7 linked regions of the Homo sapiens genome follow. The protein of the gene in region 1 purifies or fractionates together with the protein of each later gene. This does not show direct contact. Each region holds a gene or a part of one and is shown in the gene's direction. Other genes may lie near its edges. The genes, in order: CTSB, MYO1D, PFKL, GC, MYO1C, LAP3 and SPTBN2.

Region 1 (3,500 bases):
GAGGTGGAGGCTGCAGTGAGCCAAGATTGTGCCACTGTACCCCAGACTGGGTGACATGGCCCACAGACCAAGACCCTGTCTCAAAAAAAAAAAAAAAGCTTTTTTCCAGAGCCATCTTGCTGTCCTCATATATTTATTCTCCTAGATGAATTGTTGCTTAAGCAACAATGAAGTTTAAATTGTTCTTCAGATAGAACCCCTAGGTGCCAGGCAGTTTGTTAAGCACTGACACCGCAGTCCTGTGACTTTCATGACGACCTGTGACCTGTGGGAGGTAGAACACCTCACCCACCCGTGGGAGCCCCTGGAGTGACTGACAGGAACCCCTGCCTCACCCAGCTCCCCGCGCCGCGGCTCTCCCCAGCCCTGGATGCAGGCGCCCAGGAGACATGTATTGCTTTTGTTGAGCTGCTCACTTAGGAGGGTGACTCAGAGTTCAAGCTGGAAAGCACTGGCTTGTGACTCATGAGCCAGTGCAAGATCAAACGGCTGGGGCATCGAGGTGAGAGTTTTCCTTCTCAGAAGCCTCATCTCCGCAGCCGGAAGCAGAGCCCTTGGCTGACTGGAAAAACCAGAGAGGCCCCGGGAGTGGGTGGATGGCCAGCCCAGCCCCACCTCTCAGCCTCAACCTCCACCAGCCCACACCGAGCTTGTTTGTCTGTGTCCTGTCGAAACTAGGACTCCTGGATTGTAACTTTTCTTACATTTCCCTGTCCCCTGGGTCCTCCACTTAGGGTGTAATCACACAGACAGGCTCTTAACTGTTTCATATCACTCACTTGGGAAAGTGTCTCAAGCTGTTCTACAAATCCATGCAAAGGCCGTTTAAAAATAGCAGCGAAGGCCCTGGACTCGGTCTCGTCCAGCACAGCCCCTTGGCTCTCTCTCTGGGCTCTGGCCGCCTGGCCCCCGGGGACCCACACGAGGTCATGGCGTGCTTCGGGCAGGGGGGCGGGGATCCCATAGACACCTCAGCTCCTTAAGAGTTCTCCGCCTGGGCCAGGACGAGCATGGGGGTCCCCACTGATGCCCGAGACGGTGCCCCTGTGTGTGTGAGCCCTCGACCCACATAACAGAGAGGTGTCCTGATGCCCTCTGTCCTCTCCAGGTGGATCTAGGATCCGGCTTCCAACATGTGGCAGCTCTGGGCCTCCCTCTGCTGCCTGCTGGTGTTGGCCAATGCCCGGAGCAGGCCCTCTTTCCATCCCCTGTCGGATGAGCTGGTCAACTATGTCAACAAACGGAATACCACGTGGCAGGTAGGCTGTGGGGCTGCGTCCTATGTATGTCCCCTCCCAGGTCGGTCTGTGCACACTGACTCCAGGAATGGGAAGCCAGCCCTCACTGTGGCCCACAGAACATTGTCCTGGACTGTTGAAAAATGGCCCTGACCCTGAGTCATGTCGGCTCTGGACCACGCCTCCCTCCTTTGTCCCATACCCCACGTGTGTGCATGAGTGTGTGTGCATGTGTATGAATATATGGTTGTGTGCACGTGGAGGTGTGTGGGGGAGTAAGTGAGCTTCGGAAGTGTTCAAAACCAGCTAGCCCCTGTGACGCCCGCCGTGGCACAGTGGCAGTTTATCAGTCCCGCCCCTGATTCCCTTTGTCTCTGCCCAGCCCTGACCCTCGGACTGAGAACCAAGAATGAGGAGTGAGCCATGTTGAGGGCTGGAGAGGGTCTCTGATTGTCAGCAAATGGGAGCAGATCAGGGGAGACACCCACTCTGCCCGTGTGTCACTCTGGGCTGTTCCCCAGTGCCCCCCAACCCTTGGGCCCTTGAATTGGGTAGGGTCTCTGGTTTTCCCTGGGTTGGGCTTCGTGTGTGGGCAGCGTGCCCATCCACCGCCATCCCGGGAGACCCTTCAGTCAGTGGGTGACTCTCTTCCAGGCCGGGCACAACTTCTACAACGTGGACATGAGCTACTTGAAGAGGCTATGTGGTACCTTCCTGGGTGGGCCCAAGCCACCCCAGAGGTGAGTGCCTGCTCCTCTGCACCGCTGTAATGTGAGTGGCAGGCGTTGGTTTGGGGCAGTGGGAAGTGGGAGAGTGAAGGCCTCTCTGGCGTCCGCAGGGCTCATGCTGCCCAGGGCTGCCGACACCGCTTGAGGTACAGTACTTGTTTCTTTTCATTTTTATATTACTTTCTCTTTTTATTTTATTTTTTCCTTCTCAAGTTATTAGTAGAGAAGATGCTGGTGCTTTTTTTTGGTTTTTGAGAGAGTCTCACTCTGTCACCCAGGCTGGAGTGCAGTGGCACGATCTTGGCTCACTGCAAACTCTGTCTCCCGGGTTCAAGCGATTCTCATGCCACAGCCTCCTGAGTAGCTGGGGCCACAGGCTTGCACCACCGTGCACGGCTAATATTTGTATTTTTAGTAGAGACTGGGTTTCGCCATACTGGCCAGGCTCGTCTCGAACTCTTGGCCTCAGCAAGTCATCTGCCCAACTCGGCATCCCAGAGTGCTGGGATTACCGGCATGAGCCACCCCCAGTGTTTTCTATTGTGCTTCTCCAAGGTGTCTCAGCCGCAGATGTGACAGACAAGGTCTGGGTCCCCACTATGTGGGCAGACTCAATCTTGAGTAATTTAAGGGAAATCTAAGAAAAGCCAGATGAGGCCAAGTATGGTGGCTCACGCCTGTAATCCCAGCACTTTGGGATGCCAAGGCAAGCGGATCACCTGAGGTCAGGAGTTCGAGACCAGTCTGACCAACATGATGAAACCCCGTCTCTACTAAAAATAAAAAACTTTGCCAGGCGTGGTGGCGGGCGCCTGTAATCCCAGCTACTCGGGAGGCTGAGGCTAGAGAATCGCATGAACCCGGGAGGCAGAGGTTGCGGTGAGCTGAGATGATGCCACTTCCCACGTGAGGATGGGGTAGTTAAGTTGCACGACACTGCCTTCTGCACAATGGGGATGATATGAGAAATGATGAGAGGATCCTGGGCAGAGGTTGAGGCAGGAGAGCAGGGCAAGAAACACTATCTGGACTGAATAAACTTATTTAAAAATGAGTTTATAATTTGTGGATAAATTCATCTTAAAAAATCCATTACATAAGCCTAGAAAGAAGCGTACAATATCGCAAGTCAGGCCAGGTGTGGTGGATCATGCCTGTAATCCCAGCACTTTGGGAGGCCAAGGCAGGCAGATCATTTGAAGCCAGGAGTTTAAGACCAGCCTGGCCAACATGGTGAAACCCTGTCTTTACTAAAAATACAAAAATTAGCCGGGTGTGGTGGTGCATGCCTGTAATCCCAGCTACTCAGGAGGCTGAGGCACGAGAATCGATTGAACTCAGGAGGCAGAGGTTGCAGTGGGCAGAGATCTCGCCACTGCACTCCAGCCTGGATGACACAGTGAAATTCTGTCCACTCCCACCCTCCCGTCCCACCCAAAAAAAAAATCAAAAGGTGCATTGAGCAACAGAATTTCCTTTTGTTTTATGAAATTACCAAGGACACCTGTCTGCAGCCTTCTTCGGCATGTCTTGT
Region 2 (4,103 bases), on another chromosome or scaffold:
TCCCGGGCAACCAGTGCTTAGAAAGTGCCTCACGTGCTCATGGCCTGGTGAAGGCGACTCCAGGCTGGGCAGAAGCTCAGCGCATGCTGGCCTTGGCCCTGGCGTTCCCCTGGCCGTGTGGACACGACAGCTTGGCGTTCACTGCCCAGCACTAAGAGCAGCTCCGTAAGTCCAGCAGAGCGTTCAAAGCGGGACCAACCTGCCCACGCCCCAGACGCCATCCCGAGAGCAGTGAAAAATTCCCAGGGCTTTCGGCATACGGAGCAGAGCCAGCCAGTCCTGACTGGAGGCTCCGAGGTCAGGAGGCTTCCTCCTTTCTCCTCTCCCCTCCCAGCTCAGAGCTGACAAGGCACAAGCTGAGGTACAGCGTGGGATTGTGCTGCCTGTGTGAGCAAACATTGGGGTGCCAGCCTATCGCGACAAGTGTCTCTGCTTTTAAAACCAGCAGCAGCTTCTTAGCATGTTCAGCGTCGTGTGAGGAGCTGGAGGAAGGGCTCGGGCTCGGGCTCTGTCCAGCAGGAAGAGCACAGCTTCCGCCTCTGCACCCGACCTGGAGCCCGGCCGGACGCCCGGCTGAAGCCGCCTTCATGTGCTCCCAGGCCAGCGGGGCTTCCTGCTGCACAGGGTTCCCTGCAGCCCCCGGTGGGGCACCGGCTGCACTGTTCTGCAGCCTCCAGGGTGGCAACCAGCCAAGCGGCCCAGCTCCAGATGAGAGCAGCCTCTCGCTTGGGGAAACCCAAGTCAGGCCCACTTCCACCAGCCGGGGTGTGACAGGCAGGGACCAGCCAGGAGCAGGAGACATCTCTCTCTCTCTCTCTCACTGGGGCATGTGGCACGGGTCTCCCGCAGGATGGATTAGTGTCAGAGTCAGAACCCCAGCCCTGGTACACCGAAGGACCCAGGGGCTTGGTCCTCAGCCCCAGCCAGAGACCTGGTGGCGTCTGTTCAACCACATGGCCCTCCACTGTCCAGTCCCATGCGCTGGCATGGGAGCCAAGGGCCCTGCCATGGTGCCGAGGCTGTGGTTGGAGGCCCAGCTAGTGCCACACTCGCCTTGCCTCGGCCTCTCTGGGGCCCTTCAGGCATCCTCCTGGCACTTGTGGAGGAAGCAGGCTGCGCCGGAGCCAATGGTGGCCGGGAGCTGCCGGGCAGGTGCCCTGTTCTCATGCTGCCTGCTAACTGCCCGTCTGGTGTTTTTGGTTCCTGCAGTGAGAAGCGCCACCTTCAAGTGAACGTCACCAACCCAGTACAGTGCAGCCTGCACGGGAAGAAGTGCACCGTCTCCGTGGAGACGCGGCTCAACCAGCCCCAGCCCGACTTCACCAAGAATCGCTCGGGCTTCATCCTCAGCGTGCCCGGGAACTGACGCCCCGCGGAGGCCTGGCCCGGAGCCCGGCCACACTCCGAGTCCTGGGTCCCAGTCCAGCTGCTGCCTCCCAACCCATGCCCGCTAGAAACCTGCTGCGAGGGCCCCTCCCAGAGGAGCCCCGCCCCTGTAAGATTTCCTTCCTGGTTTTCTGCCTTTGGTATCATCTTCCTCTGTCCTTACTGTCCACGGTCCCTGTTCAATAAGCCAAAGACCCTGGTGCCCCGCCCAGACCCCTGGGCTGACGTCCAGACCAATCTCACCCCAGAGGCAACTGGATGGTGCCTTTAGTTGGTGCGGATGCCCCGTGGCCAGGTCAAGTCAGAGCACCTGGACAGGTGTCCTCCCTGCTGCTGACCCTGCAGAGGGAAGGGGTGGGGATGCAGGACCCCACTCTGCGGGAGCCCCATAGCCACCTCTCTTGCCCAAGGTGAGCCAGCCCTGGGGACCCAGCTCAGGGAGGCTCTGCTCAGAGTTCGGCGGACCCACCCCAACCCAACTCCCAGCCGCCAGCCAAAGCCACTGGGTGAGCAGAGTCACCCACAGGGCCAGCCCCTCAGCCAGGAGCCAGTGGCAGGAGCGGAACAGCCCATCCAGCAGAGTGAGTCCATCCTTCCCAGGTTCTCCCCTGGGAGACTCCCTTTGCCACCAAGGCCCCCACCAGGGCCTCTGACCACCGCTCTGGAGAGGACAGTGTGGCATGCTCCAAGGATCATCTTACTTAACTCGCAGCCTGTGGCTGTGGTCCTCTTATAGATACTTTCACCGTTTGCAGGGTTGCTAATCAGATACCTGCTGTCACCACACTTGGGTCAGGAACCCTAATGAGAACGGGGAGCTGCCAGGGTGAGGGCAGCCCTCAGGGTCGGCCGCTTTCCCTCTGGACCACCTCCCGCTGCGTTTCCTACTCAGAGAAACAGCAAGGGCGGGGTCAAGACACGGGATGACGGGAAGCAGGAAGCGGGGCAGCAGCACAGCGTGGGGTCCTGGCACTGCAGGCCAGGCCAGGATGCCCACCCCGCCCTCTACACGGCCCCTTGGGGCCTGCGCCCGTGAAACTGGTGCCAGGGAGCACTGCCAGCTTGCCAGTTTCTGCCCAGCAAAAGCACGTATGCTTCAGGGGCCTTCTGAGACCACCTTCCCCACTGAGCCCCAGCTGCTGAGAAGGCCTTGAGGGAAGTAGAGGCTGGGAGCAAATGCCCCATGCGGTGAGAGGATGAGGGGAGCCTACGCCTCAGGCATGTGGTGAGAGGATGAGGGGGAGGGAGCCAACGCCTCAGGTGGAGTGGGCAGAGGTGCAAGAGAGGGATGTACTGAAGCTTCTTCCCGTCCTGCCACAGACACTTCTCCTGCCTTCCCACCCTGACCCGGCAGAACCCACCAAGTGCCTGTGTGCAGCCTCCTGTGCCTCACCCAGGGCCTGACCCCAGAGTGGTCCCAACAACCCGGTCTCATGCCCACTCCCCATCCCTGCTTCCCAAAAATTGCACTGTGTGCAGTTTGCAACAAAGAATCCCGCTGGCATCCTGTCCTTGGGAACCCTTTCTCATTCTCCAAGCCTGGTCAGCTGCCTGCACAGGCAGAGGTGCCCTCAGCCCAGATTAGCAACACTCATAGTTTTGCCAATTACCAGTAGACACTAGTGGAACCATCTAACTGGAACTTCCTCTCTCCTTCCACTTATTTCCTCAAACTTGTTGCTTTACACTAGACACATGCAAATGTATGTTTTAAACACACCAAAACAGATCATGCCAAATGAGTTGCCTGTCAAAGGCTGGAGGGCAGGAGGAGGGCCTGGGTTTGGGTTCTTTCCTCCCAGCCTTTGGATGGTGCCTTGGGCCCCTTAGCCCCAGCGCCAGGGCCTCCCAGCTGAGGCCACAGGACAAGCACTTTTTTATGATGTACTAAAAGCCACAGTATGTGGCAACTGCAAAAGGATCAGGAATTTAGGGTATGATCTCGGTCACGTGTCCCGGGCGCTGAGGGGAAAGGAAGCGGGCATGATTGTAGACAATGAGGGGGTTCTCTTGATGTAATGAAATGCAATTTTATGGTTTGGTGCAAAAACTCCTATTTTCCAGTAAATTAACTTTATTTCTAAAGCATATTTTGATTTGCCATCAAGAGCAATAAAGCATTAAATCTTATTTTTAAAGGTGTTCTGCTTATCTGTCACTGAAAACTTGGTGAAATTTTTGCTTAAATAAAGTCAACCATTATCTGGGAGGATAGAAGGGAGAATTAAGCACAAATCATGTAAAATGGAGGATGATTTGCCTGAGGCTTTTGAACAAAAAGTGAGCAAGAAGCAAGCTGTGGACCGGAGGTGTGAGGAGGGAAGGAGGCCGTGGGGTTGAGTCCCAGCACTTTCTCCTGCCATCTTGAGGCCTGTGCGCTGGCAGCTGGAAGCACACTGCTTAGTGCCAGGGAATATGTTTACTGCAATAGAAGCACGTATGTAGAAAGGAAAGGCTCAGAGACCTACAGCAGCAGACTGGGGACAGGCCAGGCCAGCGGAGTGAAAGGTGCTGGGAGGAAGTGTGGGGGCGGCAGGGAGAGTGAGAGGAAGCAGCAGCTCCTCCTGGGGAAGGGAGCAAGGCCCTGAGGGAGCAACAGGGCATGGCCAGCACCCAAGGGTCCTGCAGCCAGGGTGCTTCCGGTCACTGGTCATTGGCAGAAAAGAACACGCAGCGGTGGCTTCTGTAACTCAGACGAAGGCAGTTGCTTTGTGGAA
Region 3 (3,500 bases), on another chromosome or scaffold:
CCGTCTCTACTAAAAATACAAAAATTAGCTGGGCGTGGTGGTGGCACATGCCTGTAATCACAGCTACTCAGGAGGCTGAGGCAGGAGAATAGCTTGAACTTGGGAGGTGGAGGGTGCAGTGAGCCGAGATCGTGCCATTGCACTCCAGCCCGGGCGGCAAGAGTGAAACTCTGAAAATAAAATGTTCCCAAACAGCTGAAAACCTCAGGAAATGGGATCTCTCCAAAATAAGGATGAAATGGCTTGTTTCTAAAGTCCTGGGGGACGAGGGTCCTGTAGAGAGAGTCACGGCCAGTGAGGTCCTGGCTCCCAAGCCCCTTGAGCCACAGCCGGAGCTGCAGGCCGGGGCAGACAGCGTGGCCCAGCCTGAGTCTGGTCCTCCCTTCCATGGACATCTTTGGGTGTCCCTGCTGCTCCAGCCTCCTGCTTATCCCCAGAGCTAGTCAGCGGGCTCTACCCTCCGTGGTGGGGCAACCTGGTCTCCACGAACCCAGAACCTGGCAGGGGCGTGACTGGCTTTGTGGGCAGCAGGGCTGGCTCGTACCAGGACCCAGTGGGGCCATGTGGCTATGGAGCCCTTGGGTGTGGCTGCTGCCAAGTGGGATGTGCTGCACGTGACAGGTGCACGCCAGGTTCAGAGCCTCAGCACGGTGGGTGGAGGGGAGGTGGTGGCGGCCGTCACTGGATTCACATGGATGTGGTGGGGTTTTGGGTCCATCAGGTTAAATTAACTGTAGTCCTGATGGGACTGTCTCCATGTCTTTTCCCTTCCCTTAACGTGGCTACTAGAAAACAGGATAGCCAGGGCCCCTTCCTTACTCGTGGCTGTGCACCCCCCACCCTCCCGCCCGCTGCCAGCCCCTTGTGTGGGCACTGACCTGTGTTCCCGCCCGCAAGCCTGGCTTCACAACAGTGCTCGCCCCTTCTGCCTCCTCTGTTGCCTGCGTGCCAGGGGGCCAGGCTTGCACCGTGTCTCTTTTGGTCTTCACCAGAATCTTCTGGAATTAGAACAGATACCGTATTCCCAGGGCAGTTGGGCGGTGTGCTGGGCAGCGTCCAGGCTGCTGGCAGGGCCTGGCCCCTTTTTCCAGAACCTGCCGGCCTGCTGACCTCCTGTGCAGGTTGGGGGTCCCCTCCCCGGCTGTGCCTCACGCTCATCTCCCCTTCTCTCTGAAGTCTAACTTCTCCCTGGCCATCCTGAATGTGGGGGCCCCGGCGGCTGGCATGAATGCGGCCGTGCGCTCGGCGGTGCGGACCGGCATCTCCCATGGACACACAGTATACGTGGTGCACGATGGCTTCGAAGGCCTAGCCAAGGGTCAGGTGGGTCCGGCCGGGGCAAACAAGTGAGGACTTGGGCCTTCTGTGTGCACACTTGGGGCATTTCCTGTGGAAGGCCGGCTGCTGGAGGTGGAGGCTGAGACCTGGGTCCGCGTGTCGGTGCCCACCCGGGCCTGGGTACTCAGCTCTGCCTGCAGCGTGATGCCCAACACTGGCTGGCCCCCGGGCACAGGCCCACCCCTGGGGGGAATTGGCCAGAGGCTCAGGCTGGCCCCTGAAGCTGCATCTCCTCCTGGCAGGTGCAAGAAGTAGGCTGGCACGACGTGGCCGGCTGGTTGGGGCGTGGTGGCTCCATGCTGGGGACCAAGAGGTGAGCTGCCTGCTGCGGGTACCTGGGGGCAGGAGGGCCAGGGCGCAGTATCCAGGCCCTGCAGGTGGGGGCGGCAAGGGGAACCCAGCCCGGGGCCCTGGGCTCGGCCCCTCTTCCTGCTGGTGGTCTGCCCAGAGCAGGCTTCACGCCTCCTGCCTGGGGCTTCCTGGCCTGAGCTCCGCTGTGTAGGGCAGGCTGCTCTGGCGGCCCCATGCCCATGGTGGGCTCTCCGTGGCAAGGAAGCTGGCGAGCGTCTGTCCCTGCCTGGCCAGGCCAGGCAGCCTGCACTGTCAGCACTCTGGCTGAGGCTATGGGCCTGTCTGATGGCTTTTGTCCCAGGGCCTGAGACCCTTCTGTGGGCATGGGGTGGGCACAGTCCCCCTGTGTGACTACAGGGGAAGTTGCTGAGTCCTGAGCCACTGAGTGGCTGCAAGGGCCAGAGGAAGCATCCGCTCCTGCCGCTGAGTGTTGGGCGAGAAAGCCTCGGGCAGGAAGGGGTTCCCACGGGGAGCCCAGCGGGGTGGGGGGTTCACTCGGTTGCCTGGCCGGTGCCTGGTGATGCTGAGTGGTGCCCAGGCGGCTCACGCTGGGCCTGTGTGTCCCTCTCCGTGTGGAGCCACAGCGCCACATCCCGGGCATTGCAGCGACTGCTGACTGGCTCGGGGAACGGCCAAGGCAATGCCTTTCTGTGATCAGATGCAATCTGGACACGCGTCCCCGGGTGCTGCGTGTTCATGCGGATGTGTCTTTGACTGCAGGACCCTGCCCAAGGGCCAGCTGGAGTCCATTGTGGAGAACATCCGCATCTATGGTATTCACGCCCTGCTGGTGGTCGGTGGGTTTGAGGTGAGAGCTGCCCACGGACGAAAAAGCCCCAGGGCACAGGAGACCCAAGGTGTCCTCCCGCCGAGGGGGCCCATCCTGAAAACCCGTGTGCTGGCTGGGCCGATGCAGGGGCCGAGAGGGTCGGGGTTTTAAGTGCTGTGTGTGGGCTCGGGAGGGCACCCGTGTGCCAGCTGGGCTGATGCAGGGGCCGAGAGGGTTGGGGTTTTAAGTGCTGTGTGTGGGCTCGGGAGGGTTCTTTACTTTCTCCGGAAAGCTTCACAAGGTTCCGATTAACCCCAGTGCTGGGGAGGGGCAGGGGAGGAAGGGGACTCGGAAGCTGGAGGACGAGAAAGAAGGGAGGCGGAGGAGGCAGAGGTGTAGGTGCTGGACGGCATCGCTGAACGTGGTGTCCTGGCACTGGGCAAGCTGTCACTAAATAATGAATAAATGACAGCCCTTCCCCCTTGCCCTCCATGGAGTGGATCTGGGGTCAGAGTGGGTTGGAGGAGACTCCTGACCCTCCTTAGAGTCCAGTTTCCCTGGTAGGCATCCTGAGATGACACCAGGCTGACTGCCTGGCCCAGCCCCAGGGGATTGAGCAGGTGGGTCCTGGCGTCCAGCACGGGGCACATGACAGGTCAGCAGGGAGCAGGGCTGGGCGGCCGCCGGCAGAGCCTGTCCCCGGCCCACCCTGGCCTCGGTGCTGCCCTTGACCTGCCCCGTCCCTACTGCTGCAGGCCTATGAAGGGGTGCTGCAGCTGGTGGAGGCTCGCGGGCGCTACGAGGAGCTCTGCATCGTCATGTGTGTCATCCCAGCCACCATCAGCAACAACGTCCCTGGCACCGACTTCAGCCTGGGCTCCGACACTGCTGTAAATGCCGCCATGGAGGTACGGGGCTCCTGGACACCGGCCTGCCATGCCCAGGCCCTTGTGGGGTGGGGCTGAGCCTACGGAGGCTGCTGGAGGGGATAGTGTGTGGTGAGCACCTGGGAGGGCTGCCAGGGTTGGGGTTTGTGGGGCAC
Region 4 (4,231 bases), on another chromosome or scaffold:
TAGATAGAAAATCTGACTAAACATGTAACTACCTAAATTGGTTTACTGAAATTTTGATAGACTCTGCCCATGTAGATAATCCTTGGCTACTGAGTTGATAATGAAGTTTTAAATCACTTATCTGCGGGACCCTGGACACAGGGCTGTCTTTAAACTCTTCCACTGAGTTCCAATGGCCTCATTAGTTTCATTGACCTTCACAGATATTATAAATTTGGAAAGCCAGTGGGAGAACGTGGCAATAACTAGAATAAGAGTAATAGGTGACATTAATCCATGTTACTATGTGATGGATGTTACCATGAGCCCTGCACCCAGATTACCTTAATTAACCTCATAGCAATGTTGTGTCAAATGTACTGAGTTATCACCACATTGCATATGAGGAAAATGAAACTTAGAGGGGTAAAATAAATTTCCCAAGGTTACACAGCTATGAAAGCTGAGTAGGGATTTGATTTTAGAGCATGTGTAACAACCTGTACCTGACCATTTCCTGAAAATAGGGCTACTGCAAAAACCAGGAGTGGAACTCATCTAATTCCAATGAATGATCTACCTATGACTCTCTAGACAAGTCACAGAATTTACCCAGTGCTCAGTTCACTCTTCTGTAAAATGAAGATGTTGGATTTCATGTCCTACAGGGCCTCTCTGAGCTCTCAAATTACATGCCCATAAAATATACTAGTTGTAAACTATTAGTAGAAGGAGCTTTAAAATCACTGTAGGGAGTCCAAGATTTGCCACTAACTTTTTATGATTGGCAGTGGTGAGCCATTTAACCTCTCCAGTTATTTGCCTCACTTCAAAGGTTATTTTTCATATATATGTCAGTGCTTCACAAAGTGCAATACAGCATAGAAATACAAAGTACTATGCCATCATCTAAAATAAGATTACTTCATAGCATCAGAATTATGGATTTAAAATATTATGTTGAATTGGCTTCTCACTCTTTTTCCCCTTTTACTTAGAACATCTGGTCTGCAATATTTTAAGGTAATGCTTATTTGTAGTAGATTTAAACAAAGAGAGGAAGAGAGGTAAAGACAGAGTTTCCGATTTTCCACTTACATATGAGAAAGGTGGGGTGTCCAAAGAAGACACACAGCCCTATACAGGGGGAGAAGGTGTGCGTTACTAACATATTAAGTAAACTTTAGTGAGGAACAGCAGTGGAAAATAATCTATATACCTTGGCTCTTTTGCAGTTTGACAAAGTTAATGATTAAAATCTCCTAGATTTTCCACTACAGTATCCCCAGGGTGTCTATTTACCTTGATTGATATTATTTTATCTCTTTTGGGCCAAAGATAACAGCCCCTTGCTTCTGTGTTTAATAATAATTCTGTGTTGCTTCTGAGATTAATAATTGATTAATTCATAGTCAGGAATCTTTGTAAAAAGGAAACCAATTACTTTTGGCTACCACTTTTACATGGTCACCTACAGGAGAGAGGAGGTGCTGCAAGACTCTCTGGTAGAAAAATGAAGAGGGTCCTGGTACTACTGCTTGCTGTGGCATTTGGACATGCTTTAGAGAGAGGTAAGATTTCTTTTGTTGTGACCATTTACAGGAATTCTTACTAGTTTAATTTTATATTATCACTTAAAAAATGAAATAAAAAGTAAGAAACAGAAGAACTGGTGAATATGTTGGGGAGAGGGATAAGGACCAGAGAGGCATTAATCAGAGCTCCACGATGCCATGTAATGTTGAATTGGAATTGACAAAAAAAATCAACACAAGAATCTTGTTAAAGAAAGTAAATGGAATGATATAATTTGTCAATTATCTCTTCCTCCTTTGTTGATAAGCAAGACCTAGAGAGAATAATTTAAAATTAGACATTTGCTAATTGTTACAAGATAATGCAAATAAAGACTGTGATCCACCATTAAGCATTTATTCAGACTTCAAATATTTATTACCATTGAGTGTAATATACCATGCCAATGATGCATGATGTCAACTTAGAGATTTCTTTGATCCCCTTAGAGGAATCTTATACATGCAGTATTTGAAAATGCATTGTATTTTTAAAAATATCCCTCACATAAAATTTTTCTATAGCTATGAAACATAACCACAAATAAGATAATTCAGTTATATTTTTCATTGAAATTATTCTTCAGATGGTGTGTTCATCTTTGGGCAATGTTTAAAAATTTTTTTACATGATAAAGACTGAGATTATGGGAAGTATACAACTTTATGAATTCTACAGCTGGGAAACTTTTCATCATTAGCTTCAATTTACTTTTCTGGCTGATTCTTTAATGTTCACAAGGGACATCTGCATTTATCCTGCTTTGTAAAATTAAGGTTTTCATTTAGTGCTGTCAGTTAACAGCCTCACCTAATTCGTACATTATTATTCATAATAGTAATGTGTTTTGCCAGTGGAATAAAATGTGTGTTCCCAAGAATTATCAGTTATTAACTGTAACATGAATAACCTTACTCTTGACTTTTTATTCTTCTTCTTACATTTACTTTTCCTTGGTCTTATTTCATCATTCAAATTATTTTAACTCGTCTTACCCATCAATTCTTAAGTAAGCTATGCGTCCTTAGGTAAGACTACAAAGTCTTTCCCAGACAGCATAGGGTATAAAAAAGCAACATAAATTGTGTCCCTTATAAGACCTCTGAATAGGCCATGTTCCAAGAAATCCCTTTAAGTCTTATTCTTTTGGCCAAGGATTTGCTGGGGCAGATCTGATCCTGAAAAATCCTACTGAAGCAGGTTCAGATCAGGGTCTTCAAACACAGAAGGTCCAATAATGGCTAGGAATTGGAATTATATATGGAGGCCATAAGCAGGAGCATGAATCACCATCTTAGACTGCTGACTCAATAGGTGCACATTGGCTTCACCTCAAAGAATGAAAGTGTCCTTTGGAGAATAACAGAGCATTCTGCAATCTATATTTCAACATTCTCAGCAGTCCTCAGATTCTGATGAAATGGATGCTAAAAACCTCCAGTCAGTCCCCTAGAAGATCTAAACTTCATTCTTATAACCCATGTGCCATATGCCAGATGATATCTTGAGACATACATAATACACTTGTAAGCATTAACTTTCAATATTTGGGGAGAGTAGTCCTGATCTATCAATTCTCTATTCTCTAATACCTGAGCATGACCCAAAGACCAAGTCAGCAGTTTACTTAGAAGCTAGCTGTGTTCTTCCTGGCAGGAAGTTACAAAGTGTACAGATTAAGGGAGTTCTGAGAACTCTTAGGTTCTGAGTAGCCTTGTATTGTGGGGGATTGGTTTGAATTGCAGTTTTCTCTGCCTGTTATAGTTCTAGAGAGCTGACCACCCACAGCATTTATTTAAGCACCTGTTTCAAAATATATTACACTCAAGACTTACCTTGAAAAGAAGTTTCTGTGGCCAAATATATTTAAGAAATGAGCCATAATTTATTCCTTCTTGGTGGTTTCACAATTCATGCCTTTGTCGTCCTAAAGGTTCTGAGAAACACTACAGGAAAGAAATCTTATCTAACTCAGAGTATCTAAACATATTGACCCTTTTCTACAATGTCTATACCTGTGGAACTATTCTTTGGAAACCTTGGGTCTAAAATGGATACTGTTACAGATGACCCTTTACTGGACAGGTTCCAATTAAGCCAGCCCTCTCCTATCAAACAGCATTGGGAATCTTGTTCCCAAGCCACTGGGTACATCTTGGAGAAGAGAGCTTACCAAATCTGCTAAATCTGGTTAGTACCATAAGAAAATGTCCACTTTTGCTACCCTATGAAAAGCAACAAGGCAGTATTTCCCAGTTGCCTACAAGTAGCTTCTTCCCCTAGGACTGAAATGGATGAAATACTAATATACAATATATCTTTCCCTCTTCCCTTCCAAAGAAACCAAGTAACAAAGACTGGTGATACAGCTATAAAATTTTTTTTTAACTTGCAGATAGAAAAGTTACCTTAATGACCAGGAAACATTTATAAAAATTGATTTTTTAAAATTAAACTACAGCAAAAAAATTCTCAGTTTTAAGTTACACACTGTTAACAGAGCACTAAAAATATTTTTTTTGCATTTTTTTCTTTTCTTTTTTTTCGATTCAAGTTTTCTTTTTTATTATTGTTATACTTTAAGTTCTAGGGTACATGTGCACAATGTGCAGGTTTGATACATATGTATACATGTGCCATGTTGGTTTGCTGACACCCATTAACTCGTCATTTACAT
Region 5 (3,500 bases), on another chromosome or scaffold:
ATCCTGCAGTCTAAGGAGCCCGCCTACGTCCGCTGCATCAAACCCAATGATGCCAAACAGCCCGGTAGGCCCCTCCCACGGGGGACTTCGGGGCCGGGCCTCCCCTGCAGGAGACAGGCCGTCAGCGCCAGCCCGCTGACCACGGCGCTCCCCCTACCCCAGGCCGCTTTGACGAGGTGCTGATCCGCCACCAGGTGAAGTACCTGGGGCTGTTGGAAAACCTGCGCGTGCGCAGAGCCGGCTTTGCCTATCGCCGCAAATACGAAGCTTTCCTGCAAAGGTGGGGGCAGGTCCTGCTCGGTGCCAGGGAAGGGGAGCGGGAGGGTAGGAGCCCCTAGGTCCCATGAGGGCAGACAAGGGTTCTCGGCCCCATTTTAGAAATGCGGATGCGGAGGCCCTGGGCTGCCCTTGGTGGAGGCCCTTGGTGCTGCGGTCCTGACATCAGGCTGGGTGGAAAGAATACCCGGCTCCCCCAGGCCGTGCCCTCCAGGAGCACCCGGTCAGGGGTACAGGAGGCCTCCGTCCACGTGCCGGGCACCAGAGGCAGACAGCAAGCCTTGTAGGGCAGCTTCCAAGGGGCTCCGAAAGGGTGGAGCAGCTTTGTGGTTCTTCTGAGTCGGGGGCCTGGGGGGTCAAACTGAATTTCATCTCTGCCACTTTCTAGTTACTTGGCCTTAGGTAGATAAGAACGGTTTCTTCATCTTTAAAATGGGGGCAGTGACCGAGTGAGCCTCCTGCTAGCTGTGAACGAGTCAGTGGGAGCACCCAGCAGGTGCCCAGAGAAAGCTGATTGGGGTCCCCAGGGCAGGCTGCTGACTGGGGTGGGAGCCGCGTGCATTCCTGTCCCCAGGTACAAGTCACTGTGCCCAGAGACGTGGCCCACGTGGGCAGGACGGCCGCAGGATGGGGTGGCTGTGCTGGTCCGACACCTGGGCTACAAGCCAGAAGAGTACAAGATGGGCAGGTGGGTAGTGTCCGTGCCGGGTGCCTGCGGGGAATGGGAGTGGCAACCCCGGGCTGATCACTACTGCTCTCCCAGGACCAAGATCTTCATCCGCTTCCCCAAGACCCTGTTTGCCACAGAGGATGCCCTGGAGGTCCGGCGGCAGAGCCTGGGTGAGAGAGAGGCCTACCCTTCCTGCTGCACGGGGTCCCTTCTGGGAAGCAGGGAAGTCACTCCCTTGGGCTCCTTCTCCAGGGAGTCCACCCCTCCCTATCAGCTCCAGCCCCACGCCCAGCTCCAGGGAGTCCTTCTCCAGAGAGTCCAATGGCCGACTTGGAGCCCCTCCCCACCAGCTCCAGCCCCACGCCCACCATCCCACCCGCCGCCCCCCTTTTCCGGGCAGTCCCCACATTCATTCTTCTTCACCACTCTCCTCCTGCTCGTTGGTTCCTTCAGCCACTCTCCCATTCATGCCACTCGTGGAGCGCACACGGCACCAGGCTCCCAGCTGGCTCCCCGCGCTCTGGCCAATTGCCTTTCTTTCCCAACCGCAGCCACAAAGATCCAAGCTGCCTGGAGGGGCTTTCACTGGCGGCAGAAATTCCTCCGGGTGAAGAGATCAGGTTCGCGGGCCCATGGGTGTTCAGGAGGGGCGGGGTCTGGGGCCAGGGGGGGCCACCATGGTAAGAAGATAGAGTTCAGCCATCTGTGGTCTCCACGACAGCCATCTGCATCCAGTCGTGGTGGCGTGGAACACTGGGCCGGAGGAAGGCAGCCAAGAGGAAGTGGGCGGCACAGACCATCCGGCGGTGAGCGCCAGGGTGCCTTGTGGGGGCTGCAGAGCAGGGCGTGGGGGGTGGTTCACCGCCAGGCCCCTCACCCCCAACCCTGTCTGGCCCCCCACCCCAGGCTCATCCGAGGCTTCGTCCTGCGCCACGCCCCCCGCTGCCCCGAGAACGCCTTCTTCCTGGACCATGTGCGCACCTCTTTTTTGCTAAACCTGAGGCGGCAGCTGCCCCAGAATGTCCTGGACACCTCGTGGCCCACGCCCCCACCTGCCCTGCGTGAGGTCTGTGGGCACCCCCTGCCAAGTTAGGGACCATCATAGTACACAGCAGAAGGGTCTGATTTCTTCGGGCCAAAGGATTGGTCAGGGAGGGCTCACGGAGGGCCCGGACCAGAGCTGAGCAGTGAAAAGTAAGGTCTCTTTTTTTTTTGAGATGGAGTCTCACACTTTCGCCCAGGGAGTGGCATGATCTCGGTTCACTGCAACCTCCGCCTCCCGGGTTCAAGCGATTCTCCTGCCTCAGCCTCCTGAGTAGCTGGGACTACAGGCGCCCGCCACTACGCCCGGCTAATTTTTTTATTTTTAGTAGAGACGGGGTTTCACCCTGTTGGCCAGGCTGGTCTTGAACTCCTGAGCTCGGGTGATCCACCCACCTTGGCCTCCCAAAGTGCTGGGATTCCAGGCGTGAGCCACCGCGCCCTGCCGAGTAAGGTCTCTTGACCGGAAGCGTCTCCAGATGGAGGGGGTGTTACTTATCCAAAGGATGCAGTAGCATATGTTCGATGTCTTCAGAGGGAAGGGCCCAGGGTGTCCAGGACCTCTGACCTCACTCCTCCCCTTAGGCCTCAGAGCTTCTGCGGGAGTTGTGCATAAAGAACATGGTGTGGAAATACTGCCGGAGTATCAGCCCTGAGTGGAAGCAGCAGGTACGGAGAGCGGGGCTGGGTGAGGATGAGGAAGTGGAGTCAGGGAGTCGCAAGCATTGCTCAAAGGGTGTCCGCCTGGAGGGGCATTTACCCCGGTCTACCGTATTTACCGCGTTCTACCGTATTTACCCCGATCTACCGTATTTACCCTGGTCTACTCTATTTACCCCAGTCTACCGTATTTACCCCGCCTACCGTATTTATCTCGGTCTACTGTATTTACCCCACCTACCGTATTTACCCCAGTCTACTCTATTTACCGCAATCTACTGTATTTACCCCGTCTATAGTATTGACCCCGGTCTACCGTATTTTGCCCTGCCTACCATATTTACCCCGCCTACCGTATTTACCCCGGTCTACTCTGTTTACCCCGGTCTGCTCTATTTACCCCGGTCTGCTCTATTTACCCTAGTCTACCGTATTTACCCCGGTCTACCGGTGACCTCAGTTGGATGCCAGGCCCTGCTGGGCCTCGTGTAGGAAGTGGACACTGGAGTACAGCTGGGGTGGCCAGTAGGGTTCATATCGTGGGCCAACTGCCCTTGATTGGTAGAGACTGCTCAGAACCCTGTGTTGAAAAGTCTGCGTCTTCACTCGGGTCGATTGGTGATATCTGCCCTGATTACAGGCATTGGTTGATGTGCCGTGTTTTTGCCAACTCAGTATTGGATGATGCTAAAGGGCCCACCCAGTAACCTTGAGTATTAGTGATCTGCTGCTTACAAGACCCCAAGCTGGAGCTGAGTCTCAGGGCCACCAGGGCCTGATGGGGTGGGGAAGCATTACCAAGGCCAGTTTCAAAACCCCGCAGTGCCTTCATGACCCCGCTGGGGAGTGCTTG
Region 6 (3,500 bases), on another chromosome or scaffold:
CAAAACTTGTAGCCGAGCAAAGGGAAAAGAGTTCAGCAGAGACCAGGCAGGACGCATGGGTGGGGTATGACTCGTTAAACTGAGACATAGCCGCGCTAAGCACTCTCCATTGTAGGTCAGTGTATATCAGAGAAACACAGGCAGTTCTTCCACAAGGGCAGGACTTTAATCAGACATCAAGTACTGAGTTAATGATTTAAAATGCCCACATTGCACAGCCTTGTTGTTGTTGTTTTTTTTTTTTTTTTGAAGTGATTTTTAAAACTGTTTCATCTTCCGATTTAAAATTTTTTTCCCTTTGAAGTGTGCTGGTCATCCCACCATGATGCAGTCCTAGTTTAATCATTTTAACAAGTGGATGGCAAATGCCGGAGGAGCATTCCTTGGCTGTGGTTGTTGCTGGTCTGCAGGAGGATAGAATTTCTTTCTTGGCCTAGTTACCGTGGCCAGAAATCAATACAAAGCCCTTTTGTGCTCCTAGCCTAGAAAGAAGAGCAATATGGCATCAGTTTTCTAGTTTGAACTAAGGACTGTTTCCATTCTGTTACCCCACCGATCCCATGTTTATTAAGTAAGAACTAACTAGTTTTCTCACTTAAAGATGCCTCAAGCAACAGTTGAAACTGTGAGAAACAGTGTGTGACAACATTAAAAAGATAGAATTCAACAGTTCTTAAAAAGCAAATAAATAGGATATTTTTTTTCCAGTCATTGGGATATAGCTTTGGTTTGCTGTCTGTTGGTTGATTTTTTTTTTTTTTCATTTTTAGAAATAAAGCAATGGACCCCTTACCTATCTTTAAGCACTCTTTGTGGTCTCAGAGCCTATTGCTAATTTTATTTTTTTAAGAGACAGGGTGTTGCTATGTTGCCCAGGTTGGGTGCTGTGGCGAGATCGTGGCTCACTGCAGCCTTGACCTCTAGGGCTCAAGCGAGCCTCTTGTCTTAGCCTCTGCAGTAGCTAGGACAATAGGCAGGCACCAACATGCCTGGCTAATTTTTTCTTTTTTTTTTTTCTGTAGAGACCAAGTCTCAACTTGTTGCCTAGGCTGGTCTCAAATTTCTATCCTCAAGTGATCCTCCTTCATTGGCCTCTAATTTCATCTTTATTATATCTTACCTTATTTGTTTTAGAGACAGTTTCACTTTTTTGCCCAGGCTGGTTTCAAACTCCTGAGCTGAAGCAATTCTCTCACCTCAGCCTTCCAAAGTGCTGGGATTACAGGCATGAGCCACCGCACCCGGCCTTCTAACTTCATCTTTAAATTAAAATTGTAGAAATATCTGAGTAGATTGGAGAGAGGAAATTAATTATATAGACTGTAGACTATTAGTTGACATTGTATTAGGTACCACACATGACTTCTCTTAGTAATTCAATAATCTTTTGATGGAAGAATTACAGACCTCATTTTATAGATGAGGAAATAGGCTTAGAATCAAGTGACTTGCCCAAGAATATACAGAAAGCAAATAATGGGACCTGATAATTGAAACCTTAATGTGCGTATACTTTAAGAGTTTGTATATTATACTTTTTCACACACTGTGATGAGCTTTTTCTGTTATTTTGAAATAAAGGTAACAGTATATTTACTTTTTCCCTCTTTCTACCCTATAGACCCAAGTCTTGGATTGAGGAACAGGCAATGGGATCATTCCTCAGTGTGGCCAAAGGATCTGACGAGCCCCCAGTCTTCTTGGAAATTCACTACAAAGGCAGCCCCAATGCAAACGAACCACCCCTGGTGTTTGTTGGGAAAGGAATTACCTTTGACAGGTATTTTTTATGGTGTCCGTGCTTTGTATTTTGGTGAATTATTTGTGTGCAGTTTAATTACTTGGTTATAGGGTTTTTTGGTTTGATTTTTTTTTTTTTTTGAGGCAGAGTCTCACCCTGTCACCCAGGCTAGAGTGCAGTGGCGTGATCTCGGCTCACTGCAGCCTCTGCCTCCCAGGCTCAAGCAATCCTTGTGCCTCAGCCTCCCAAGTAGCTGGGATTACAGGCGTGCACCACCACACCCAGCTAATTTTTGCATTTTTAGTGGAGATGGGGTTTTGCCGTGTTGGCCAGGCTGGTTTTGAACTCTTGGCCTCAAGTGATCCGCCCACCTCAGCCTCCCAAAATGCTGGGATTACAGACATGAGCCACTGTGCCTGGCCGGTTTATAGTTTGATACAAAAGCATGGTGTTTGGTTGAAGGTATACATTACTTTAAATTTATTATGCTACCACCTCTAAAATGCTTAGAATATGTCAGAGACTATCAGGTATTTTGCATGTGTTAGCCCTAACCATACCCCTGTGGGCTAGGTATTGTAGACATTCTCCAGGTAAAGAAACCATGACTCAGAGTTTAAATAATTTGTTCAAAGTCCTATAACTAGTAAGTGGAGTCCGAAGTCAAACTCAGGTGTGTCGTGTCCTTTTTTTAAAAAAAATATAGAGATGAGTTTTCACTGTGTTGCCCAAACTGGTCTTAAACTGCTGTCTCAAGCAATCCTCCCACCTCAGCCTCCCAAAGTGCTGGGGTTATAGGTGTGAGCCATTGTGCTCTGCCTAAAGTGTCTTCAGATTTTTCTGCCATGCACTTTGCTTGTCCTCTGTGGCTGTTAAAGATTCTCCACGAGGTTAGTGGTGATGCCCCTGTTTGTATTATGCTGTCTTCCCTTTGCTTGCTTCAGATGATTACTTCTTTTAGCTGACCAGTCTAGCTCCCATTAATCTTATTCAACCATAAGTATTTCTTAGAGTTGGAAACTGTATCTGGTTATTTCAGCCAAGGAGAGGCTGAACTGAGAAAGATAGTGGAGTTTGGTATTTCCCATGGGAAGCATTTGCCACCAAACACAAGTTTCAGGGATGCCAGCGAGTATGAGACGTAAAAAGGGCTACTTAGCAAAAAAACTAGGTTAGAGAAACCCATGAGGGGTTTCATTTTTGTTTTATTTGCTTAACTACAGGACTTCTCAGGGTACAGAATATAGCATTTTCTGTATTTCCTTTTGAAGGAACCCTGATTCCTGGGAATCATGTTACCTGGAAACTACTTTGGAAAATGCTGCTAGAGAACCATACGATGTTGATGTCCCCTTGTACATTTTTGTGCCCTTTCTGGAATGCTTCTAGACGTAGGAAGCCCCTGTCATTGGCATAGCTTGCTGTCAGTGTGGTCTCCTTGTGTTAGCAGGTCAAAGTGCCTCCTTGTGTCTCCCACCCACTAGTTCACATTTTCTCCTTTAAAGCATTGATCTCCAAATGGTTTTCCTGGTATAGCCCATCAGTAAAAGATCTTGAGTGCATCCCTTTGAAAATATGCATGCTTTTTTATAAGTTATATGCATTATACTATTGTACTAAAGTGTCTATTATTTTATTTATTTATTTTTTTGAGACAGAGTCTAGCTCTGTTGCCCAGGCTGGAGTGCAGTGGCGTAATCTCGGCTCACTGCAAGCTCCGCCTCCCGGGTTCACACCATTCTCCTGCCTCAGCCTCCCG
Region 7 (3,500 bases), on another chromosome or scaffold:
GCACAGTTATCACACTACCCTGGATTTTTTAATTTCAATCTTTTAGATTCGCGGGTGTGGGTGCAGGTTTGTTATAAGTTATATTGTGTGATGCTGAAGTTTGGGGTGTAATTGAACCCATCACCCATGTAGTGAGCACAGTACCCAATAGGGATTTTTTCAACCCCTGCCCTTGGATTCTTGTGCATATAAAGTTCGAGATCCACTGATCCAGCCCATGAGGGGATGCTCTCCCTGGGTGAGCTGCAGTGATGAGCAGCCACAGTGGGCTGGATAGAGACTGGTTGGTGTCTCTGCTGGGCATGAAGGCGGAAATGCAGAGCTAACATGTCCTTCCTCCTGGCGGTTTGCAGATGCTGGAATGGGAGATGGCTGTGAGAGAGAAGGAGGTGGAGGCAATCCAGGCCCAGGCCAAAGCACTGGCCCAGGAGGACCAGGGTGCAGGGGAGGTGGAGAGAACCTCGAGGGCCGTGGAGGAGAAGTTCAGGGCCTTGTGCCAGCCCATGCGGGAACGCTGCCGGCGCCTGCAGGCTTCTCGCGAGCAGCACCAGTTCCACCGCGATGTGGAAGATGAGATTGTGAGTCACTGGGGCCAAGGACGGCAAGCTGCCCCCAGCCATGTGGTTCTCCAGCCTCCCTCCTGGATGCCAGGGAGATGCCAGCAGGGCTCTATTCCCTCTTCTCTTTGGCATTGACCATCTCCCCTATAGGGAGACTTGGAGATGCCTCCCAGAACCAGAGATGACTGTTCCCCACACACAGGGCGGTAGCCCCAGGTGTCCCCACTCCCACTAATCAGTCCCTGCTGCTTGCCTTGCCCTCTGGGCCTCCACTGACCCCCTCTTCCTCTTCCAGTTGTGGGTGACAGAGCGGCTGCCCATGGCCAGCTCCATGGAGCATGGCAAGGACCTGCCCAGCGTCCAGCTTCTCATGAAGAAAAACCAGGTGAGGCAGAGGCTGAAGGCAAAAGAGAAGTTCCCAGGAGCCTGCCCAGACTTGGACGTGTTTTTTCTTAAGACCAGGCCCCCCTCGATGCTGAGTGTAACCCTGGACTTCAGTGGCTGTCTTTCCTCACCTTGGGAGGGTGGGTCCTCTCAGTAGGAGATAGTGGGGGCTGGGCGGCTGACGGGTGTTACCATCGCACCCCCAGGCTAGGAGAGGGAGCAGAGGACCCAGGAAGGAGAGAGGCACAGGGGTGAAGGGTGGTCTCCGGGAGCACGTGGGGCTGGGGCAGGACTTTCAGCATTTTCTCTTCTGTGGCCATGGGCAGACCCTGCAGAAAGAGATTCAGGGCCATGAGCCCCGGATCGCGGACCTGAGGGAGCGGCAGCGTGCTCTAGGTGCAGCAGCAGCAGGTCCAGAGCTGGCTGAGCTGCAGGAAATGTGGAAACGCCTGGGCCACGAGCTGGAACTTCGAGGGAAGCGACTGGAGGATGCCCTGCGAGCCCAGCAGTTCTACCGCGATGCCGCCGAGGCGGAGGCCTGGATGGGCGAGCAGGAATTACACATGATGGGCCAGGAGAAGGCCAAGGTGAGGGCCAGGACAGAGCCCAGTGTATGTGACCAGTTCTGCCCTCCCCTGACCTGATGCTGGATGCCACTGTCCCTTCCCCCAGGATGAGCTGAGTGCCCAGGCAGAGGTGAAGAAGCACCAGGTGCTGGAGCAAGCCCTGGCCGACTACGCGCAGACCATCCACCAGCTGGCGGCCAGCAGCCAGGACATGATTGACCACGAGCACCCAGAGAGGTGGGTGCAGCGGCAGCCCGGCCCAGCCTGGGGGTGGAGCCGGCTGCAGGAACAGGAAGGTGCAGGGAATGTGGAGCCTTCAGTGCTGTGTGCACGGAGCCTTCTAGAAAGCTGGAACACAGGGTGGGCGAGCTGTTGGGAGACTCAGAGGGACAGGGCTCCACAGAACAGACCGGAGGTCAGAGCTACACCCCTAAGTCCCACAGTGCCTCCCTCACTCTTCTTGCAGCACTCGGATATCCATCCGCCAAGCCCAGGTGGACAAGCTGTATGCCGGCCTGAAGGAGCTGGCTGGAGAGCGGCGGGAGCGCCTGCAGGAGCACCTCCGGCTGTGCCAGCTCCGCCGCGAGCTGGATGACCTGGAACAGTGGATCCAGGAGCGCGAGGTGGTGGCGGCCTCCCACGAGCTGGGCCAGGACTACGAGCATGTGACTGTGAGTGTAGGGAGGGCACCCAGCTCAGATCAACCGTGGGAAGAGTGGAGGACCCACAGGGAGACTAGGACCTAGTCCCAGGCAGAGCACTGAGGGGCTAAGGGGCAAGACCAGGCTGAGCAGGCACTGTCCTCCTGGTTTTGAGGTATATGATTTGAAGAGGCCGGGCATAGGCTCACACCTGTAATCCTAGCACCTTGGGAGGCTGAGATGGGAGGATTGCTTGAGTCCAGGAGTTCAAGACCAGCCTGGGCAACATAGTGAGACCCCCCATCTCTACAAAAAAAATTTTTTTTTATTAGCCAGGCACAGCCGTGCATGCCTGTAGGCCCAACTACTTAGGAGGCTGAGGTGGGAGGATCTCTTGAGCCTGGGAGGTCGACACTGCAGTGATTGCGCTAGTGCACTCCAGAGCAAGACCCTATCATCTCTAAATACATACACACACACACAATTTGAAGAATTGTACAGAAAGGGGACATGAAGCTGAGCTGAGACAAGGGCAAACAGGAAATTATCACTCACACTTTTCAACAGAATTCAACAAAACGGAGTATGATCCACCCCCCCGACAGTTTGGGGGCTTGGACCCTCAGTCGTACAGAAATATGGACCATAGTTAGGGTATCCTTGTCTGAAGCCTAAGGGTCCCAAGCACCTTGAAACGCCTTTGCTGGGGGTGGAGGGAGTCTGTCAAATACAGGGTCAGTGGGAAGCAGCTGCACCTACTCCTTAACCACAGGGAAGAAACCTGTCCCGGCCCCCATGCAGCGGGGAGAGGTGGGTTCTGAGTTTGGAGTGGAGGACTCGCTCCATCAGGCAGGGACCACATCCCCTAACATCACGGCATGGTCTGTCCATCTGCTTCCTCTACCAGATGCTCCGAGACAAATTCCGAGAGTTCTCCCGGGACACAAGCACCATCGGTCAGGAGCGCGTAGATAGCGCCAATGCGCTGGCCAATGGGCTCATTGCTGGGGGCCATGCTGCACGGGCCACCGTGGCCGAGTGGAAGGACAGTCTCAACGAGGCCTGGGCTGACCTGCTTGAGCTGCTGGACACACGGGGTCAGGTGCTGGCCGCGGCGTACGAGCTGCAGCGCTTCCTGCACGGGGCACGCCAAGCCCTGGCGCGGGTGCAGCACAAGCAGCAGCAGCTTCCGGACGGGACTGGCCGCGACCTCAACGCTGCCGAGGCCCTGCAGCGCCGACACTGTGCCTACGAGCATGACATTCAGGCCCTCAGCCCCCAGGTCTGACCCAAGCATGAGGAGGTGGGGGAGGCTTAGAGGAGGCCATGGGGGAAATGCCGGGGAGAGT

Evidence for each region.
Region 2: the proteins of CTSB (region 1) and MYO1D purify together in Homo sapiens (affinity purification with mass spectrometry, with the first as the bait; one large-scale study listed by BioGRID). This does not show direct contact.
Region 3: the proteins of CTSB (region 1) and PFKL purify together in Homo sapiens (affinity purification with mass spectrometry, with the first as the bait; one large-scale study listed by BioGRID). This does not show direct contact.
Region 4: the proteins of CTSB (region 1) and GC purify together in Homo sapiens (affinity purification with mass spectrometry, with the first as the bait; one large-scale study listed by BioGRID). This does not show direct contact.
Region 5: the proteins of CTSB (region 1) and MYO1C purify together in Homo sapiens (affinity purification with mass spectrometry, with the first as the bait; one large-scale study listed by BioGRID). This does not show direct contact.
Region 6: the proteins of CTSB (region 1) and LAP3 fractionate together in Homo sapiens (co-fractionation; one large-scale study listed by BioGRID). This does not show direct contact.
Region 7: the proteins of CTSB (region 1) and SPTBN2 purify together in Homo sapiens (affinity purification with mass spectrometry, with the first as the bait; one large-scale study listed by BioGRID). This does not show direct contact.

What each region holds. Positions count from the first base shown.
Region 1 is NC_000008.11:11,851,088-11,854,587, reverse strand, and holds part of CTSB (cathepsin B isoform 1 preproprotein), read left to right. Parts: intron 1-1,108; 5' UTR 1,109-1,133; coding exon 1,134-1,259; intron 1,260-1,892; coding exon 1,893-1,978; intron 1,979-3,500. UniProt on the Homo sapiens protein: Thiol protease which is believed to participate in intracellular degradation and turnover of proteins. Cleaves matrix extracellular phosphoglycoprotein MEPE. Involved in the solubilization of cross-linked TG/thyroglobulin in the thyroid follicle lumen.
Region 2 is NC_000017.11:32,492,022-32,496,124, reverse strand, and holds the end of MYO1D (unconventional myosin-Id), read left to right. Parts: exon of another isoform or gene 1-677; intron 678-1,209; coding exon 1,210-1,366; 3' UTR 1,367-3,603; downstream 3,604-4,103. UniProt on the Homo sapiens protein: Unconventional myosin that functions as actin-based motor protein with ATPase activity. Plays a role in endosomal protein trafficking, and especially in the transfer of cargo proteins from early to recycling endosomes.
Region 3 is NC_000021.9:44,320,553-44,324,052, forward strand, and holds part of PFKL (ATP-dependent 6-phosphofructokinase, liver type), read left to right. Parts: intron 1-1,176; coding exon 1,177-1,323; intron 1,324-1,580; coding exon 1,581-1,651; intron 1,652-2,409; coding exon 2,410-2,497; intron 2,498-3,213; coding exon 3,214-3,366; intron 3,367-3,500. UniProt on the Homo sapiens protein: Catalyzes the phosphorylation of D-fructose 6-phosphate to fructose 1,6-bisphosphate by ATP, the first committing step of glycolysis.
Region 4 is NC_000004.12:71,781,280-71,785,510, reverse strand, and holds the start of GC (vitamin D-binding protein isoform 1 precursor), read left to right. Parts: upstream 1-1,431; 5' UTR 1,432-1,456; coding exon of another isoform or gene 1,457-1,492; coding exon 1,493-1,550; intron 1,551-4,231. UniProt on the Homo sapiens protein: Involved in vitamin D transport and storage, scavenging of extracellular G-actin, enhancement of the chemotactic activity of C5 alpha for neutrophils in inflammation and macrophage activation.
Region 5 is NC_000017.11:1,468,687-1,472,186, reverse strand, and holds part of MYO1C (unconventional myosin-Ic), read left to right. Parts: coding exon 1-64; intron 65-162; coding exon 163-280; intron 281-850; coding exon 851-964; intron 965-1,039; coding exon 1,040-1,116; intron 1,117-1,497; coding exon 1,498-1,566; intron 1,567-1,667; coding exon 1,668-1,752; intron 1,753-1,852; coding exon 1,853-2,012; intron 2,013-2,572; coding exon 2,573-2,656; intron 2,657-3,500.
Region 6 is NC_000004.12:17,587,198-17,590,697, forward strand, and holds part of LAP3 (cytosol aminopeptidase), read left to right. Parts: exon of another isoform or gene 1-482; intron 483-1,120; exon of another isoform or gene 1,121-1,284; intron 1,285-1,621; coding exon 1,622-1,780; intron 1,781-3,500. UniProt on the Homo sapiens protein: Cytosolic metallopeptidase that catalyzes the removal of unsubstituted N-terminal hydrophobic amino acids from various peptides.
Region 7 is NC_000011.10:66,691,217-66,694,716, reverse strand, and holds part of SPTBN2 (spectrin beta chain, non-erythrocytic 2), read left to right. Parts: intron 1-353; coding exon 354-578; intron 579-855; coding exon 856-945; intron 946-1,270; coding exon 1,271-1,531; intron 1,532-1,616; coding exon 1,617-1,747; intron 1,748-1,976; coding exon 1,977-2,181; intron 2,182-3,058; coding exon 3,059-3,433; intron 3,434-3,500. UniProt on the Homo sapiens protein: Probably plays an important role in neuronal membrane skeleton.